Regions from separate parts of the Homo sapiens genome. Here region 1 is linked to region 2. Evidence: fine-mapped QTL for protein levels in blood plasma. Region 2 holds a variant in brackets. A gene starts in the other region. All regions are shown on their forward strands.

Region 1 (2,914 bases), not on the chromosome of region 2:
TGTATCTCATCATTGGACCACGAGAGCAAGCAGCTGGACCCTGTTCCTCCGGCAACGGCATCAATCTTACCACCAACCTTGGCTCTTTGAGGGGCTTGGTATATTAATATCACTGGCATCAGTGGGAATATGTGGGAGAAATGGAAGCAGTACTGGTAGAGAAAGAAGGAGAAGTGGCAGGATTGAGGTGCATGGCAGGCATTCATGGTGTCTTTCATGTAGTTTATAAAGTAGTTTATAAAGTAGCAGAAAGATAAAGAAATGACAGTTACAACATGGTAACATAAAAATTAGTAAAATGTGACATAAATTAGATATTAATTTTGGTTTGGCATAGCAGAATGCTCTGTCTGCATAATTTTATTAGATCTTCATTACAATACCACACCCTCAGATGAGGACAAATAAAGCCCCAACCTCTGGCCTTACATCTTAAGGTGTGTTTTCTCAAAATTTTCTGGGTTCCACTTTGGTGGTGGGAATGGCTGGAGCCAGCAGTACCACGTGGCCGGGGAGCCCTGAGCTGGTCCTGTGCCCATATGGACTCCGCTTTCTATTTCACCCCTTCATGGTTCTTTCTTACCCTCTTCCTTGCATGTCGGGCCCACTCGATGCCCCAAAGAACTCCAGGACTTCTGCTCACAAATGAAGTTGTCCTGAGGTCCTGTGGCTGAACCCTGGATCCAGAAAGACAGCCTTGGAAACAAATTACTACTCCTGTAGCCAGTACCTTACAATTACGTATTTTTGAATGATTTTATCGGATTTGATTGCCAAAGAATCTTGCAAAAACAATTTTTTCCCCAAGCTACACACCTTATGGTTGGTTGTGTTATTTATGTTCCCATTTTAGATGAGAGGACCAATATCCTAGATTAAAAATGTCAAATCCAAGATTACACAAACAGTGAAAATTGAATCCCAGGTTTTTCAAAAGACACTCTGATTTTAGATCTTAAGCCTATTATTCTATCCAAAGGCTCAGAGAAGACATGCTCTGAACATACTCAAAGTAACTGACACTGGAAAAGGTAACAGAGGTGTGAAAATCTTACCATAGTAGATGTGTGAGTGGGCTGGGGGCAGGTGAATTCCAGAGAAATGTGGCACTAAATGTCATGAAGCTGACTCTGTATTATACCAGAGTGGCCTCCAGATTGCTTTCACAACTGGGTAGTTCATCAGCTAATGTGATTCTCCAAACTTTAAATGATTAGAAAACTGGGGAAAAATGTAGAAAACCAGAGGAAAACACTCCTTCTAATCCAAATATAAATTCTTCACTTCTTTTCAATGTTCTTCCAGGAGAAGGATTCGTTGGGCTCTTTGCCTTCTGCTTTTATTTCTGTGCAAGGGTTTATGCAAGAGGTACTTGAGAATGCTGTACTGTAGAGCTTTGTTTCTCATGGGAACACACGGGGAAGTGGAAAACCCTCCAAATTGTTTGGTGAGAAAACATAACATTTATCCCTTTCTTTGGTGGGGTGAGTCAAGTGGTAGGGACTAGAATTCAGGTCCTCAATGGGCATATAAATATGTGTGTGCAAAAGCAGCCATCACACTTTGTATGGCAAGTGGAACCACTGGCTTGGTGGATTTTGCTAGATTTTTCTGATTTTTAAACTCCTGAAAAATATCCCAGATAACTGTCATGAAGCTGGTAACTATCTTCCTGCTGGTGACCATCAGCCTTTGTAGTTACTCTGGTAAGTAACTGGAATACATCTGGAATATGTGACATTTCTTTACTTTTCTGTTAATAAGAGCACAACTAGTAAGCCTTGCCTCACTGACAGTGGAATATGGTGGTAGGAATTGTATTTTTTTTTATTTTACTTTTAACTGACACATAATAATTGCACATATTTGCAGGGTTGGAAGAAGTTTTGGAATCACAGAAAATGGTGATGTTGGAAAGTATTTCAGATCCCCACCATCTAAGCTCTAGCCCAATATAAGTATTCTAATACATCCTACATAGGAAGTTAGCCAACTTCCACGGAGGGTCAACAAAGCACATTTCACTGCTGGATATTGGTCACCATTCGTTTTTCTTATTTTCCTCAATTTTGAGTTAAAATTTGACTTTATAATTTCTTTTGTGCTTTTGAACTATATGGAGTCATTCTTGCTATCATCTCCAGTTATCCAATTTGCTAGCTTGGTTCTCCTGAGATAGCTACATTCATCTGTTTATCCACTCAATGGATATTTATTGAATGGCTACAATTTGTTGGGCACTGGATAGGCATTGGAAGATTTAGACATGAAGCAGTCATAAATATTGTTCTTAAGGTGCTACTCTGGTAGGATAGATAGGGCTTCTGCCTAAGTTACTATAATTCTAGACTACTGTAAACGTACTGTGAGATATCCAGATAGAACTCTTTTAGTGTATTGGTGGGTGATTAGTTTAATTTTCAGGTAAGGGTATAGAAGCTGGCTTCTTGGAGGAGAATGGGAACTGATTTATTTTTTTGGAAGGAATCATTGTAACTATCAGGAAGACAGTGTGGGCACATGGGAAAAAGAGATTTCATGATAGCCACTGCTCATTGAGAGAACAGAAGGCTTTGAAGATCTTCTCCCAGGAAGCTGTAAACACATACAGAGAAGATATTTACCAAAATGTCTGAAATAAGAAGTATGGAGATTAATAATGAAAAATTGATTGCCGCCCACACCTACAATGGCAACTTTGGCTTTTGATGTTTATTGAATTTCTGAAGGAATTTGTAACTTCACCAGTTTTGGATATTTCACTGTTCTCTAATGTCCAGGGACAGGTATCTATGGGCAAAGTGGCAGCAGAAAGGAGGTGGGGAAAATAAATACCGCCCCCTCTGGGTGAGAATTTTGGAGGGACAATAGGTGATTGAAAATTTAAAAAAATATATACAGGCTCCATTTTAAT
Region 2 (2,914 bases):
AAGCCTTTTTCTTGCCACTGCACTCCAGCCTGGGTGACAGAGCGAGACCCGGACTCTAAACAAATAAATAAAGAGCTCAGCACCATTTTTTTCACTAGTCCACACTACACTATGAGAGCTGGGGCCCTACTGCTTCATTACCTGTGGTGTATCCAGGGTCTAACACTAATTGATGCATGGTTGGTAGGGGACAAATGTTAGATGAATGAATGGTGGCAGGTGCTGTAGGACTGTCAGACATTTGAATAAGGCATTCCATTTTCTGGAGTTAGGAAGGATGTCCCTGCGTGCGGCTTTGCCCCAGGCCCCAGCCAGCTGTGGGCCTGTGGGTCTGTGGAGGGGATGAGGCACTGCTTCCACCATCCAGGTCCAAGAAGCCAGGCTGCAAAACCCAGCAGGACAGCTTCCTTTCATCTGTGGGGTTTCCCTTCAGGGAGGGCGTGACTCACAGAGGCAAACTACTCCAGCTTCCCGTGGCCTTGAGTTCTGCTCAGTCTGGCTCTCAGAGGCCCAGCCTTACGGCCTCAGCCTGCCCTGATCCCAGACCTCGGTAGGATGCTAGGGCAGGGGTTGTCATGTCAGGGATTCCATCAGTTTCGTCGTTTTTAAACTTGAGTGTGCACGGGAATCCCCTGGAGGTCTTGGAAAAACACAGATGCCTGGGCCCCACCCCTGGATTTCTAATTCAGTAGGTCTGAGGTAGTACCCAGGAATCTGCATTTCCAACCAGTTCCTGGGTGATTCATCTTTTGAGAACTGTGTTAGGCCCACCTCTGCCAGGCATTATCAATTCCACGTAAAAGGGTGCTTAGGCCTGATGTCACCAGCAAGGGGTTCTGGGAGCCTCTGTAGGCTGGTGGCTGCTGTGTGGCTCAGCTTGGACCCTCAACACCTGCTGCCGCTGCAGCCACTGGTATCTGTCATGTCCCATGGACCCTTCCCTTCCACCGTTCCTCCCTGACCACCTCTGCTTCCTTAGCCCTCTGCTCGGGAGGGTGCTCACACCTGAACTGAGCTTGGGAGCTCCCTGCCCAGTAGAGAGAAAGAACCATTCACCCTCCTCTCCTCCCTCAGCCTTTGCTAGGACCCAGCTCCATCAGCCTTCGGGGCCCCTGTGGAGTTTCCTGTCATGGCCAGGCCCACCATGCCCCGCAGGATTGCCTCCCTCCTCACAGGCCTCCTATCACAGGGTGCTCCCTCGGCTGCCTCTTAAGCCCCATCCTCCTTCTCCTGCAGCTTTCCCGCCTGTCTGTCCTCCCTTCCCACACACACCCAACTCTCACCAGCCTGGGCCTTTGTCTTGCTGGGCCCTGTGTTTGGCCAAGGCAACTTATTTGGAACTTTCCTCCAACTTTGTGAAGGGGACAGTAAGTAAAGGGACCAGGACCCAAGGCTC[G/A]GGAATGTATTGGTCCTGCTGGGAAATGCTTGCTTCCTGTGGACCCAGCTGAAAAGTACATAGGAAGCAATTATTTAACAAAGGGAAAGGTAATAAAAGAGCTCAATAAATATTTGTTGAATAAGGGAACACAAAAGCTGCTTTACAGATGCACAGCCAAAAACACCTCTTTAAAAAAGCACTTTGATTCTGTGAGAGCCCTGCAGGTATGCATGCAAAGCCCTTGATCATTTGACCCCAAGTGGGGAAATGAGAATCCCCTACACAGGACATTTCTAGGTTGGAAATTTTTCTGGCACAATGATTGCTTGTGAGTTCTGTGGCAGCTAGTGCCCTAGGCTAATAGGTGCTAAACATCAAAAAGCATCCTAGAGATAATAAATTTGGGAAACACTGACATAAATAAATATAAACTAGTCCATGTACTGGGGGGACTTCTCTGAGCCTGCCGTAGGGAGGCCTCAGGCCATTCCCAGGTTCTTAGACCTTGAGAACCTGCCCCCAAGCCATCTGCCCAGGGGCTTGCATCTGCTCGCTAGGGCTGGGAACCTGGGGGAGGGTAAAGGTAAGGGGTAGGATGGGAATGAAGGCAGTTTTCCATTTTCTCACCTAGCTTCTGATTTGTGCCTAGGAAGGAAAAGATTTCCTTTTCTTCCAGGCTTCCACCAGCAAGGCCTTAGAGAGGCTTCCCCCTTCCCTAGACTCCCACAGAGATACTGGGGCCTTGGGGGTGACTGCCAAGAAACCTGAGTAGCCTGATACCCAGGTCAGAGGTCTCTCTGTACACACACACACACACACACAGAGATACACACACACACACACACTTGCAAGCACGTGAGCCTTGCAGCCACAGGCCACTGGAAATGGAGTCATGGTCACCCCACATGGGGACCCTTGATATAGAGGAAGACTCTAGCGGAAATATGGGCAGACAGCTGGACGAGAGTTTGGAAGAGCATTCCCAGTGCCCTCGATGTGCACTCTCCTCCTGTCTGGACACAGGGCAGGCTGTGTTCTGACAATCCAGGGATGTGAGGTCAGGAGCGCAGAGCAGGGTGGAAATCACCAATAAGAGAGTGAGCTGGAAGCTGGCATTCTGGGGAAGGTAGTGCCATCCCATCCTCCCCCTTCCCAGCTTCATGGCAGCCAGTAAGCTTTGCCCTCTTTGAGGACCTGCATCCCCCAGGGACCCGGTCAAGGCAGGGTGGGGGTGGGTGGAGCCCCTGTTGGGGAGAGCTGGGCTACGCCCAGGCCCTGCATGGGAGATTAACCACCAGGGAGGGCATCTGTGCCCAGCCTGGGAAGCTTGGGCTCCTGGTCCTGCCAGTTCAGGTTCCTCTTCTAGAGAAATGTTTTCTCTGGAGCTCTGGGAAAAGAAGTTTTCTGGGACACCTGTTGAGTGTTACACCCACCGTTCTGTGGTTAGAGGAGAGGGTGTGCAGAATCCCTCGTCACCCAGCTGGTCTGAGACAGCAAAGGTCAACACCAAGCCTCCTTGGCCTCTTGCCCTGTTGG

Direction of the effects. Positions count from the first base shown, and alleles are read on the strand shown. Strength reflects both the effect of a copy and how common the allele is.
For the plasma level of the protein whose gene starts at base 1,559 in region 1, A is the high allele of the variant in region 2 and G is the other (moderate association).

What was found. PIP is the posterior inclusion probability: the model's chance that the variant is causal. The UK Biobank Pharma Proteomics Project read protein levels with antibody pairs (Olink). The fine-mapping took linkage between variants from a reference panel, not from the people measured, so its PIPs are less certain.
Region 1: it holds the start of SCGB3A2, and the variant in region 2 is fine-mapped to the plasma level of the SCGB3A2 protein (UK Biobank, PIP above 0.99).

The regions. Positions count from the first base shown.
Region 1 is chr5:147,877,153-147,880,066 of GRCh38, forward strand. It overlaps SCGB3A2 (secretoglobin family 3A member 2), which reads left to right and starts at 1,559. Exons shown (of 3, transcript NM_054023.5): 1 at 1,559-1,706. The coding sequence starts at 1,652.
Region 2 is chr1:117,573,161-117,576,074 of GRCh38, forward strand. No RefSeq gene overlaps it. Among named protein-coding and RNA genes, the nearest start is that of TENT5C-DT, 31 kb to the right of the region's middle. The variant G/A (reference allele first, on the strand shown) is at 1,397.